2 separate regions of the Homo sapiens genome follow, and region 2 is linked to region 1. Evidence: fine-mapped expression QTL. A gene starts in region 1. The other region holds a variant in brackets. All regions are shown on one strand. Distances are from middle to middle.

Evidence for each region.
Region 2: its variant is fine-mapped to the expression of ELL2 in whole blood (TOPMed, PIP 0.90).

What each region holds. Positions count from the first base shown.
Region 1 is chr5:95,959,409-95,964,759 of GRCh38, forward strand. It overlaps ELL2 (elongation factor for RNA polymerase II 2), which reads right to left and starts at 2,443. Exons shown (of 12, transcript NM_012081.6): 1 at 2,167-2,443. The coding sequence starts at 2,313. It overlaps LOC101929710 (a long non-coding RNA gene), which reads left to right and starts at 2,593. Exons shown (of 5, transcript NR_130776.1): 1 at 2,593-2,628. It also overlaps a transcript of CAST not described here. RefSeq lists silencers at 1,857-2,266, 2,337-2,576, 2,532-2,999 and an enhancer at 2,295-3,052.
Region 2 is chr5:95,859,660-95,865,040 of GRCh38, forward strand. It overlaps LINC01554 (long intergenic non-protein coding RNA 1554), which reads left to right. Exons shown (of 3, transcript NR_026936.1): 3 at 1-474. It overlaps LOC105379091 (a long non-coding RNA gene), which reads left to right and starts at 2,125. Exons shown (of 3, transcript XR_001742813.2): 1 at 2,125-4,087. RefSeq lists enhancers at 2,309-3,508, 3,764-4,265. The variant G/A (reference allele first, on the strand shown) is at 2,889.

The DNA.
Region 1 (5,351 bases):
AGACCTACCTTCTTCCCACTGCCATTCCTTCCCACGCCCTTCCCTTGGAACAGGCAAGCTTATCTTTCCATCTTGCAAGGCTGAGTTTCTCTCCAGAGTTTCTCTCCACTGTCTGCTTCTGTCCCTCTGCCTGTGTTTCTGGCTTCCCCCATATGGGCCTCCCACTCCGTCTGATGCTGGTCTCTTCACTGCAGGTGCACCTATCTAAGAGTAGCTATTGGCACATGCAGTTTTCTATTTCTTGTATCTCTCCCAGCCATTCTTGAGATTTTCTCTCGAGATTTCACTGTATGTAGGACGGTACCTTTCTCCCTGTGCATGCACTCCTCCCTGACGCCCCCTCACCCCACCACACAAAGTCTGTGAGTCCTTTTCACCATATGCTTCTCTGGTTAGTAACACAAGTGTCCTAGCACGTACATTCATGTGTCCACCCAATTCTGTGAGTACCTTCCTAACAATACACTCACCTCTGAGCCTCCACTGCTGTTTACAAATACCCTATCATGTGAGTTCATTTTCTATCCAAAGCGTGCACAACTAATGCCTTCCTCTGTGTGCACACTTATGGGGTGGGGGGGCTCTCTGAATACACTCCCAGTAAACCAGGGTTCACACCTCTCCTGCCGCTCTGCCTCAGACTCTGCCTTCGCTCTATGTATTTAAAGTGCCTGGCACTAGTGGGAGCTCAACAGATGTCAATTCTTTTCCCCACTTTTAGCTGAATAACTATGTGAATCTGTGTCTCGGTGTCCTTCTGCCCCTCTGTCTGTTGTACGAGACCGGTTGGAGTGTGTTCCTCAGTACCGAACGGGCTATTTGTAAGATGCCCCGTGGGTTCTATCTCCCTTCCGACTCTCTCCTCTCCTGTAAAACGTTACAGGTTCCCCCATATGGCATATCCCTCCCTCACGCGATGTATCCACTCCGGTCTCCCACAGTACTGCATGTCCATAAACTGTTTCCCCATGCACCCTGGTTACCGCGTCCCTTCTCGGTGCTTCCCTGTCTCTCCCATTTTTTTTCCAACATGAAAGCGTCTGGATTTGTAGTCCAATTACAGTGTATGTGCGCCTATCTGAGCCTCTCTCTGTACTGGAGGGGTGTGTGTGTATATGTGTGTGTGTGTGTCCATGGGCTTCTCTCGAAAACGAGGGGTGAGAGGCCCGAGTCTCTGCCCGGGATGCATTGTATCCTCCCCACACCTTCTGGCTCTGGCTCGTTCCCCGTTTACACTTCCCAGAGTCAGCCCAAGACGCCGGGAGCTTTTTCGGGTACGTTGAGCGTCCGTGAACCTCTCTCTCCAGAACCCGATGTCTTGCTCCCGGGGAGCGCTAAGTGTGCGTGAGTCCTCAGGTCTCTCCCCAGGGCACTGTGTTGGTTTGTGTCCGTCCTGGACGCGGCGCGTCTCCAGTAACGCGATGCGCCGGTGTCCCGGAGTCCCTGGGAATGCAGGTGTGTCCCCTCCCCCCCCGTACGCGAAGCGCCAGTGTCCCCGCCGTTCCAGTGTGCGCCGCCCCCTTACACGGACTGCCTAAGTCCCTATCTCTATGAGTACACCGTGTGCCCCTCACCATGCGCCCGAGTCCCCATCCCTTCGAGCACACAGTGTGTCCCCTGATACGTGGAGCGCCTGTGTCCCCAAGTCCCTGGGAATACAAGGTCCCACCCCCACACGCGGAGCGCCTGTGTCCTGTCTCTGAGGATCCACCGTGCCTATGTAACTGGAAAACGCGGGCAGCTGGTGCCCGCGAGTCGTCCCTGGTTCCTTGCCCATACGCTGCTCGCTACCCTCCTTCCCCGCCGAGGGTAGCGTGGTCATCTCACTTCTCTTATCGGGGCCTCTCTCCCTCCTTGGGACCCAACAAGCCAGGAAATCCTCGGGGGCCGTCGGAAAGTCCCGCAGCGGCAGCGCAGCCGACCCAGGGCTGCGGCTGCCTCGGCCCCGCCGCCAGGGGCCGCCCGACTGCCCGCTTCCCCAACGCCCAGGCTAGCCCGGGACCGCGGCGTCAGCCACCCTGCCCGGCCCTGCCCTGCCTGGCCGCTGCGGGCGCTGACGGTAGCAGCTGCCAGCCACGGCTCCGCCGGCCCCGCACCCGGGCGCGGCCAGGCCGTGAGGGGTGCGCTCTGCCTCTCTGAGCCCAGCCTGCCGGCCGGCCCGCTCACCTTGTGGCTCTGGTAAGTCTCGAGCGCCCGGATCGCCGTCTCGGTGAGCTTCACATGCAGTACGGTGATGTTGTCCTGCCCCAGCCGTCCGCACGACAGCCCATAGCGCTGCTCCTCCCGCAGGCCCCCTGTCCCCCCCGCCGCCATCTTAAACTCCCCGGGGTGCCGCCGCCGCCGCCGCTCCGGCTCTAGCCTCCACTGCGGCCGCGGCTGCTTGGGCTTCTGCAGCCGCCGCCACTGCTAGGGCCATCCCGCTGCTGACGTACTGTCATATACTGCGCGGAGCCAGACCTCGGACTGCCACCGCCGCCACCCGCCCCACCCTCCGGCCCCGCGCCCCGCCCCGGGCTCGTCTCATTGGTCTTGTTCCCTTCAGAACCGCCCTCATCGGCCGCCCTCCACTCTCACGGGGGCGGGCCCAAAGTCACTAGAGTTTTGCTCCTGGGACGGGACGTCCGAGAGGTAAGAGGCTGACGTCTAGGTGACGCGCCAACTTAATCATGTCTGACGTCACGTCTGGTCGTCTTGGCTAGCCGGCCGAGATTGGCCAGGCTGGCTTGGGGACTCCCCTGCTAATTGGAAGTCCAGGTTGCCTGGTCTGGTTACCTGGAGTTGGAGCCCCGCCCCTGTGGGGGATAGTAGTGAAAAGTCAGAATTGGGGAATCTCGCCCTACGCGGGTGGTCCTTGGAGAGGAGGATCTCCACCTCCACTATGTAAGGGGATGGCCGTGACCAAATAAGGACTTTGTTCCCCGACGGCTGCGGAAGCTGTGGAACTTGGTGCGTGCGTGTGGGGGAGGACGCAGCAGGAGGACTCGCTAGAGAGCTGCTCCTCAAAACTCCTAGTACTGTAGTTGAGCAAACGGCATTGGGAGGAAACTGCTCACTCTAAACTTGAAGTTATCGGGTGCCACACGCAGAGCTTATAAAAACAAAAACAAAAACAAAAACCCTTGAAATTAGTGAGTCGACTCTTAGATGTAGGAGTTGTGTTAGATCTTGTGGAGCATCTTAAGGACAAAATCACGCGGGAGGTTAAATGCCTTTCGTATGGTGGGCATGGTATAATAGAGAATTGAGCTTCGAGGTCTTTCCTACGCCATGCCCTGTTGTGATTCTCTGGGATCACAACTGGTGGGGATGATATCTCCTTAAAAAGGACTCTAGAAGAAGAGTAAAACTGGCATTGATCTAAATTAAAAGAAACCTCGACAATTCTCATTCTCTAATTCAGTTTGAGTATTGTCCTTTTTATTTGATAGGGCTGTGTGAAAACCTAGCTAGGGTTTAAAGGTAAGAGGCTGTCGAGGTTAAGCGAAGGAGATGGGGGCGTGAGGGGCGTGCAAAGGCCTGGCATACTTTCCATTCCATCCACAGGATGCTTCCTGTGTAGGCGTGGCTAAAAGAGGGAGCCTAATCTGGAGTCCCTTTCAGATTGTGTGTGGATAGACTGACAGATGGGTTCCTGTCAGAGGATGGATTAATTGGTTGATCAGAAACACCAGATAAAACAAACCATTGAAAGCTTTCAAACTGTTGAAAGGCAGTTTAAAAAAGTTCTTTTAATAAAAAAACTGAGACGCTTGTTTTTACCCTCAGCTTATAAAACCATGTTCTGTTCTACTGGGATTCCCCGGGAAAGTTTATAGATATTTAATCAGTATTTTTCATTATTTTAAATGGATTAGGGCCATGATTCCATGTCCTCCCCTCCCAATAAATGCCTTCCCCACCGTACGGGTACACTCCTTTTTGATTCAGACCTTCAAACATAGTAGGTGTATAATGTGAATTACAGAATGAATTGGATTAAGTGGAAACACCTGTATTAAGTGTTACTCCATCACAGGAAAACAGTTTGTAAATTGACTTAATTTCAATCCACTAAGATTGGCTAGCTGTTAAGACGTGATTAACGCTTGCTAATTTCATTTACTTTAGTGATACAGTGTTATCTTAAATTCATGTAGTAGAGATATTAAGGTAATCATCAAATTGGATTAAAAAGTTTACTCTTAGAAGGGAAATAGAGGCTTTACTACCTAGTTTTCTCCGCTTTCCAAAAGTAGAAACCTTATTCAAATAGTTCATCTCTAAGCGGACTATAATCTAAAAATAATTCTGTACTTGAACTTTTCTTTTCTCTCTCTCTTTTTTTTTTTTTTTTTTTGATAGTAAAGGACTGAGCACATAGCTAAAGCCTTAATTATTTGGGAGGTGAGGGGGAAGGGAGGTTTGACCGGAACAAGTAAAACCTGTATCCCACTGCTTTTCCGGTGAATGTGGGTAAATCCCCACCCACATGATATCCTAACTTGGCCTACTCTTACTCAGAATTTCTGATGACATCCAAGCGGGTGGGGGAGGAGTAAGGATGGTTTTCGTTGTAGTTTTCAAATATCTGACCTGTAGCTTCTTACTAGTAATTGACTTTTTTTAAAAATTATAATAGGAAAATTTTTCTCATGCCCTATTTTAGTGGGTAACAAATCTTTCACGGATTAATATATTATTGTAGTGAGTTAATGGTTGTTTGTATTTTTCCCCTTTTGAGCTTTTCAACTGTGGAAGGAGGAAATGATCAAGTACAAAGTAATATGGTAATCTAGCAGTGTCTTTTCATTGATGTCTCACAGGCATAGTACACATTACGCCTGCCTGAATCAGATGGTCAAGTTATGATGCTGGTTAGGATAATTTATTTTGAGGAGGCTGATGAAAGGTGCTTTTTGGGAAGGTTGCCATTTTATACATATTTTCTGTATCTTTATCTGGTTTAAATAATTAAATAATCATTGAATACCAGTTAAGTATAACATGCGGTAGAGGATTTAAAAATTAAACTGTAAAGTCTCTAGAGGAATTTTCTGTTTCAGTGTGGCAAGTGAACCAGTATAGTCAAAGCAAAGCAATTAGAAAATTAGTAAATGCTAATTTGGACGGTGTTGGTGATAAGCTCAAAAATTCAAAGAAAGGAGAAGTCTGAAGAGGTTTAATGGAGGTGATAGAACTTGAACAGCTCTTGAGGGTTGAGTAGATTCTAGATAAGTTGGAGGTGGTATAGATGGAGACAGCCCAACTAAAAATGATCTTCATGATGATTCCAGGTGGACACATTAGTTTTATGAAGGAGGAACTGAGACCCCCATTTATTTAAAAGCAACCTGCCTAACATAACCAGGAGA
Region 2 (5,381 bases), 100 kb before region 1:
TTGGGGGAAAGAAACAAGATGGGGGTTAGAAATTAGAAACAGCAGAGCTCCACAGGTTGGAAAGGTTGGAAAGGATTTGAGCAAGAGAACAAGGAGCCTGCTAATAGCACCCTGGGTTTACATCAAGAGAAGCACCTGGAGAGAATTAACTCGGGAGGAGGTGGGGGCATGGGAAACCTTTTCATCTCCAAGAGCGGGCAGGAACAGCAGCTGGCCTGAACTTGAAGGTACACCAGGTAGCTTGCGTGGGCCAGGAGAAGGTGATTCTCTTCTATGCCTCTCTCCAACGCCCTGCTTCTGATGCTGCTCCTCTACCTGTATTGAGGGGAAGATACATCCCTAAGAAGTTCCCTGAACCCCATTCTTTGTTGTGGCTAACTGGTCCCCTTGGAATTTTTCTACTAATTTTCAATTCCCCCTCTCACCTGGTGAAATCTTGAATCTTACTGTTCAATAAAAGTTCTTCTACCGAAATTTCTATACCACGTTGAATTTTTTGTGTTTCCTTTGTTTTTAGTTCTTTGGGAGTTTTACTTAGAAAAAAAAGCCTCTGGGGACTAGATAAGGAAGGAAACCTTCATGTGGACCCTCTTGAGCTCTGTTTTCTTTCCTGGCCTCACTGGTGTGGGCTCTCTGGCTGCCCTGCTGATCTCTTGCTTTACTGCATTTGGGTGAGGACTGAGGAGAGGGACAGGAGTGTATTCACTGGATACTATTCAGACTAAAGGATTAGATGTCGTAGGTGAATAAGCAAGAAAGCAAACACATAAACAAAACATCTGAACGTTTTCAATCCAAGTGGAGCAGAATTTAGCTTTTCCAGCTAAACTGCCCCACCCCTGGCACCCAGGGAAAATGGTGCTCGTATTGTAATATATTCTCCCATGGATGCATGCAATATTATGAGTATTTTTTGCCTTGTGATGTAAATTCTCTTTCTTCCTCACTCAGAAAAACATATTGTAGTTGAAAGGAAAAAAAAGAATTCTGGCCGGGCGCGGTGGCTCATGCCTGTAATCCCAGCCCTTTGGGAGGCCCAGGCGGGTGAATCATCTGAGGTCAGGAGTTTGAGACCAGCCTGGCCAACATGGCGAAACCCCATCTCTACTAAAAATACAAAAATTAGCCGGGCATGGTGGCAGGTGCTTGTAATCCCAGCTACTCAGGAGGCTGAAACAGGAGAATCGCTTGAACCTGGGAGGCAAAAATTGCAGTGAGCCGAGATTGTACCACTGCACTCCAGCCTGGGCGAGACTCAGTCTCAAAAAAAAAAAAAAGAAAAGAAAAAAGAATTCTGATCCTTTTTGAGTGTGTGTGTGTATGTGTTTTATGTGTGTGTGAGAGGACACAAATTCAAACTGAAACTTTGCTAAGTAATAGGTTTTAACTGATCTGGATACATCAGGGTAGTGAGAACAGTAAGTCTGGAAAAGAAAACAATAGTTATCAATACACATACACTCTCCCATACATAGAACAATGCCTAGGTCTATTGCATTTTAATATCCGCCGAATAGGTAGCATGAATTCACATCATTTCAGCGATGGGGAAATGGAAACTCGCAGAGAGCTTAACTGAATTTCCTGAGACCATGGGATGTCAGAAGGGCCACTAAATCTTTCAACTTCCAACTCATACTTTAAACTCCTGCCTCTTATCCTTTTTGAAGTGACTGGGGAAGACCAGGTACAGATCTGTAAAATGCTTCATTCCATTTTCAGAGGAGCTGAGGTCAGGTGCTTCCTACAGTCGAGGTCTCGCCAAGAAGACGGTGGCCACGTTCCTCAATTCTCAGGCGAGTGTTTTGATGCCTGGGTGCTTCTGCCTGATGAGCCCAGCATTCATGAAGTACATGTGACAAGAGGACGGCTGGAATATTGCTCAATATTTTCAGGCCGACGGCACTGGCTGCATGTAATTTGAGAGGAGTGTAGAATGTCAGCCGGACTTTTATGACGCACCCCTCTCCTCTTCCTGAGAATTGTTTGCATGTGGAGATTTCCTGCCTATATTTTTAGCGTCAAATTTTTTTGTGGTTGCTCAAGTACCTTCGGCCATGTTTTAGTGACTTACACAGAAGCCCTGATGCCCCTGATAAAACTGATGACCATCGAATGGAAAGAAGTCAGTGTAGAAAGCCCAGGCATTGTCCCATAGCTGGCCCTGTGTGTTTGCACTGATTCCTCAGAATAAGTTTGCAGATAGCTTAACTTCCAGAATTCCTGAGTTTCACTAGTCCCCCTTCTTTATGATGAATTGGAAAAAGGGTATATTCTGGGATAAAGCAAGAGGAAACTGGGTGCAGCAAAGATCCCTAGACCATTTTTCCCAGTGGCCCATTGCTCCTGCTGCTTTTTTCATACCAGCTGAATCTCCCTAAACCCCACGTCTGCGGCAAAGTCTTCGTGGTGAAACAGGTGAGTCACACTTTTCTGCTTCTCTGCAATTACAAATGTTATCACCTCATCTGACACAGAGAGGGTGTTGGTTGGAAATACGCATTAGGAATAAGCTCTTTGGAAACAGCAAAACTGCCTTCATGAAATGAAGACTTTTTTTTAGAAAGTCTGGAGCTAAAGTTATAAAAATAAAGAGGCGTCATCTCCCTTTCCTTCTCCTACAATAATGGAAATGAAATATCAAAGTAAACAGCACCACATCCATGTCCTCAGCACATGTGACTCGCTAACAGAACCATGCCAGCCACCCCATCCCTTCTCTCCCATATTCTCTGCTGTTCTCACTGTCTCTCAAGACCTGATTTAAAACCACCTTCACTAAGAAGTCTTCCTGTCCCCCTTCTGGTCCTTCACGGAATATTATTTTGCTTCTGAAACTTAAAAAAACAATTTTGTTCTCAGGTCATTCTCTGTGTACATCCCATCTC[G/A]TCCATCCTACAGATTAGATGTTCTTCCAGGGTAGAGGCGACCCCATCTCATGTCTTTTTATTCTCCCTCTGCTTTTTATTCCCACAGGCAGTCTTCAGTACAAGAAGCGTCAATCTCAGATCTTACTCATTTCCAACCTGTACCAATCAAAGGCCCTCCCAGCCAAGATAAAAGCAAAGTCTCCCTCCTCCAGAGCACATGGGAATGGCCCCCCAGTAGCTGGGGCATGCAAGCTAATGAAGTTTCATCTTCCACCTCTATCCAAATATGACCTTGCTGATACCATCTCCTATTAGATGACAAATCCGGATGTTTCTATTGCATGGTTGTTATTTGCCACATGCTTCCTGGACAAGTTTCTAGGTAACCTTAATGTCTGTGCTTCTGGGGAAGGAGGAGTAGAAAATAACTCACCTCTTCAGTAAGTGGTTTTAAAAATATAACAGTGTTTAAAAGCTTTTAGAGAGCAGCTCTCCTTCCGGCTGCTCCAGCTCTGTTTGCTTTGTGATAGGAGCCCCCGTAACACTTCGTGCTTGGCAACATCTGACGAGGACAGAAGGCAGGTTTAAAGCTGAGAAGATTGATTTTTCCTTTGTAGGGCTTTCCATGAGGGGCGTGGGAGAGAAGTCACTTGGGGAAGCAGTGGTCAGTGAGGTTTACTTCTCCATATGCTCTGCATTCATGTGTAAGGCTAAACAAACGTGTTGTCTCCGCAAGCAAATCCCACACCACAGAGAGGAGCAGTTTGTCCTGGAGGTCCTAAGGAGGTGACCAGTGACCTGGAGGGTAAAAGGTTGGGGCTCCTGAGACCTTTCTTCCAACTCTCATTTCCATCCTAAACTGGCAGGGGAAATGTACCCAAATTGCCTGTGTGTTTCGATTTGATGTGGACACACTGTGACCACTCAGGATCGCTCTGGTGCTGCTGAACTCCATGGTTCATATTAGGCCCGACTGTCTAGTTTTAGAAAGTGGGAGGAGATTTCCCCTCTGCCAGGGCTTGGGGTTTATGTTCCCCAGAGCATTGAGCAAGAGCCTCATGTTTACAGAAATCTCAGGCCCCATGATTTCTTCCTGTCAGGGTAGAAGGAGAAGGAGTAGGCACAGACTGTGGAGTAGATCTTGCCACTTCAGTCCCTTTGTTCTTGCCCAGCATGAGGTTACCAAGGAAAGGATACCTGGGGCGCTGGGGGTGAGGGTATGTATTGGTTGTTTGAACTCTGAAAATATAATTTTAAAATTGGCATTGTAAATCAAATCATTAGGTCTTCTGCATATAGTTTTATTTTTTCTAAAACTTCATAAAGCTGTCAAAAATACCTACACTATATTTTAAATGCTGTGGGCAATATAGTTTTTAAAATTTTATTGTGAAGTGCTGTTGTAATTCCTTTAAGAGATGTACACTGTCTACCTGGTTTATTTTGTGTGCAAATATGTATATATACACTGTATATATACATATACATATACACACAACTATATACATACATGTATATATACACACATATATATTTCAAAGTTTTTTGAGATCTAGTGCTCACACAGCATTTGGTAGTAACTAACAGCTGCTAAGTCAACTCCTAACCTTCTCAACCTCATCTGGTGTGACTTAGAGCAGAAATGGTCCAACCAGCGCAGCAACCATGTACCCACCCAAGTTGACTCCTATGGGCGTAATGTCCACAGGTGCTTCTGCCTTGGTGTGTCAACTCCATCTTACAATTTAGGAGAATTTGGTTACATAGCACCTACTAGGTCTTAAAAATAAAAATATCAATGCCCATTTTATATAGTGGGTCTATGTAGGATCTAGTGAAAATACGCACTTAAGTCTTTTAGAAGACAGGAGAGATTGGGGTCATACAATTTTTTTTTGCATATGTGAAGAGAGTAAATACTTAGTGTTCATCAACTCCATGAAAATGAAGATTCCAAACTACCACAAAACTAAGGAATAAAGCTTTATCATTTGGCTTTAAAGACTCTGAAAGTACTGGGTTCTATTATTGCCTTAATTGGGGTCATGCAAGGGTGGAACAATAGGAGCTAAATAGTTCATGTTAAGGCAGATCAAGGCTTGACAAGTTCCAGATTTCCAGCAGGATTTAACTCCTGAGTCACATCAACTTGGGGTACAAGATTCACTGGGAAGCAGGGAGGAGCAAAAATCAGTCTGTAGAACTCTAGAAAGCAGTACCTGATAAAGACCTTTAAAGTCTCCATGAATCAAAGATATTAAGATTCGTTTTCTGCTACCCCATCTTCAAAATGAAAGCTATTCAAAGCCACAACATAAATATAAAAATTTCTCCCATGGTAACCACCTGGTTGATTAAAATATGTTTAATTTTTCCTTTTCTTCTGTGAATTGCTGCTGCCCTAAGTATGTACGTGGTCTGCCTGTTAGCTTCCTAAGCACATCTGGCAAGGTGGGGTAGATGAAGAAGGGCAGCTATGGAGGTGGGCATTTGGGAGAATGTAAATGCAAG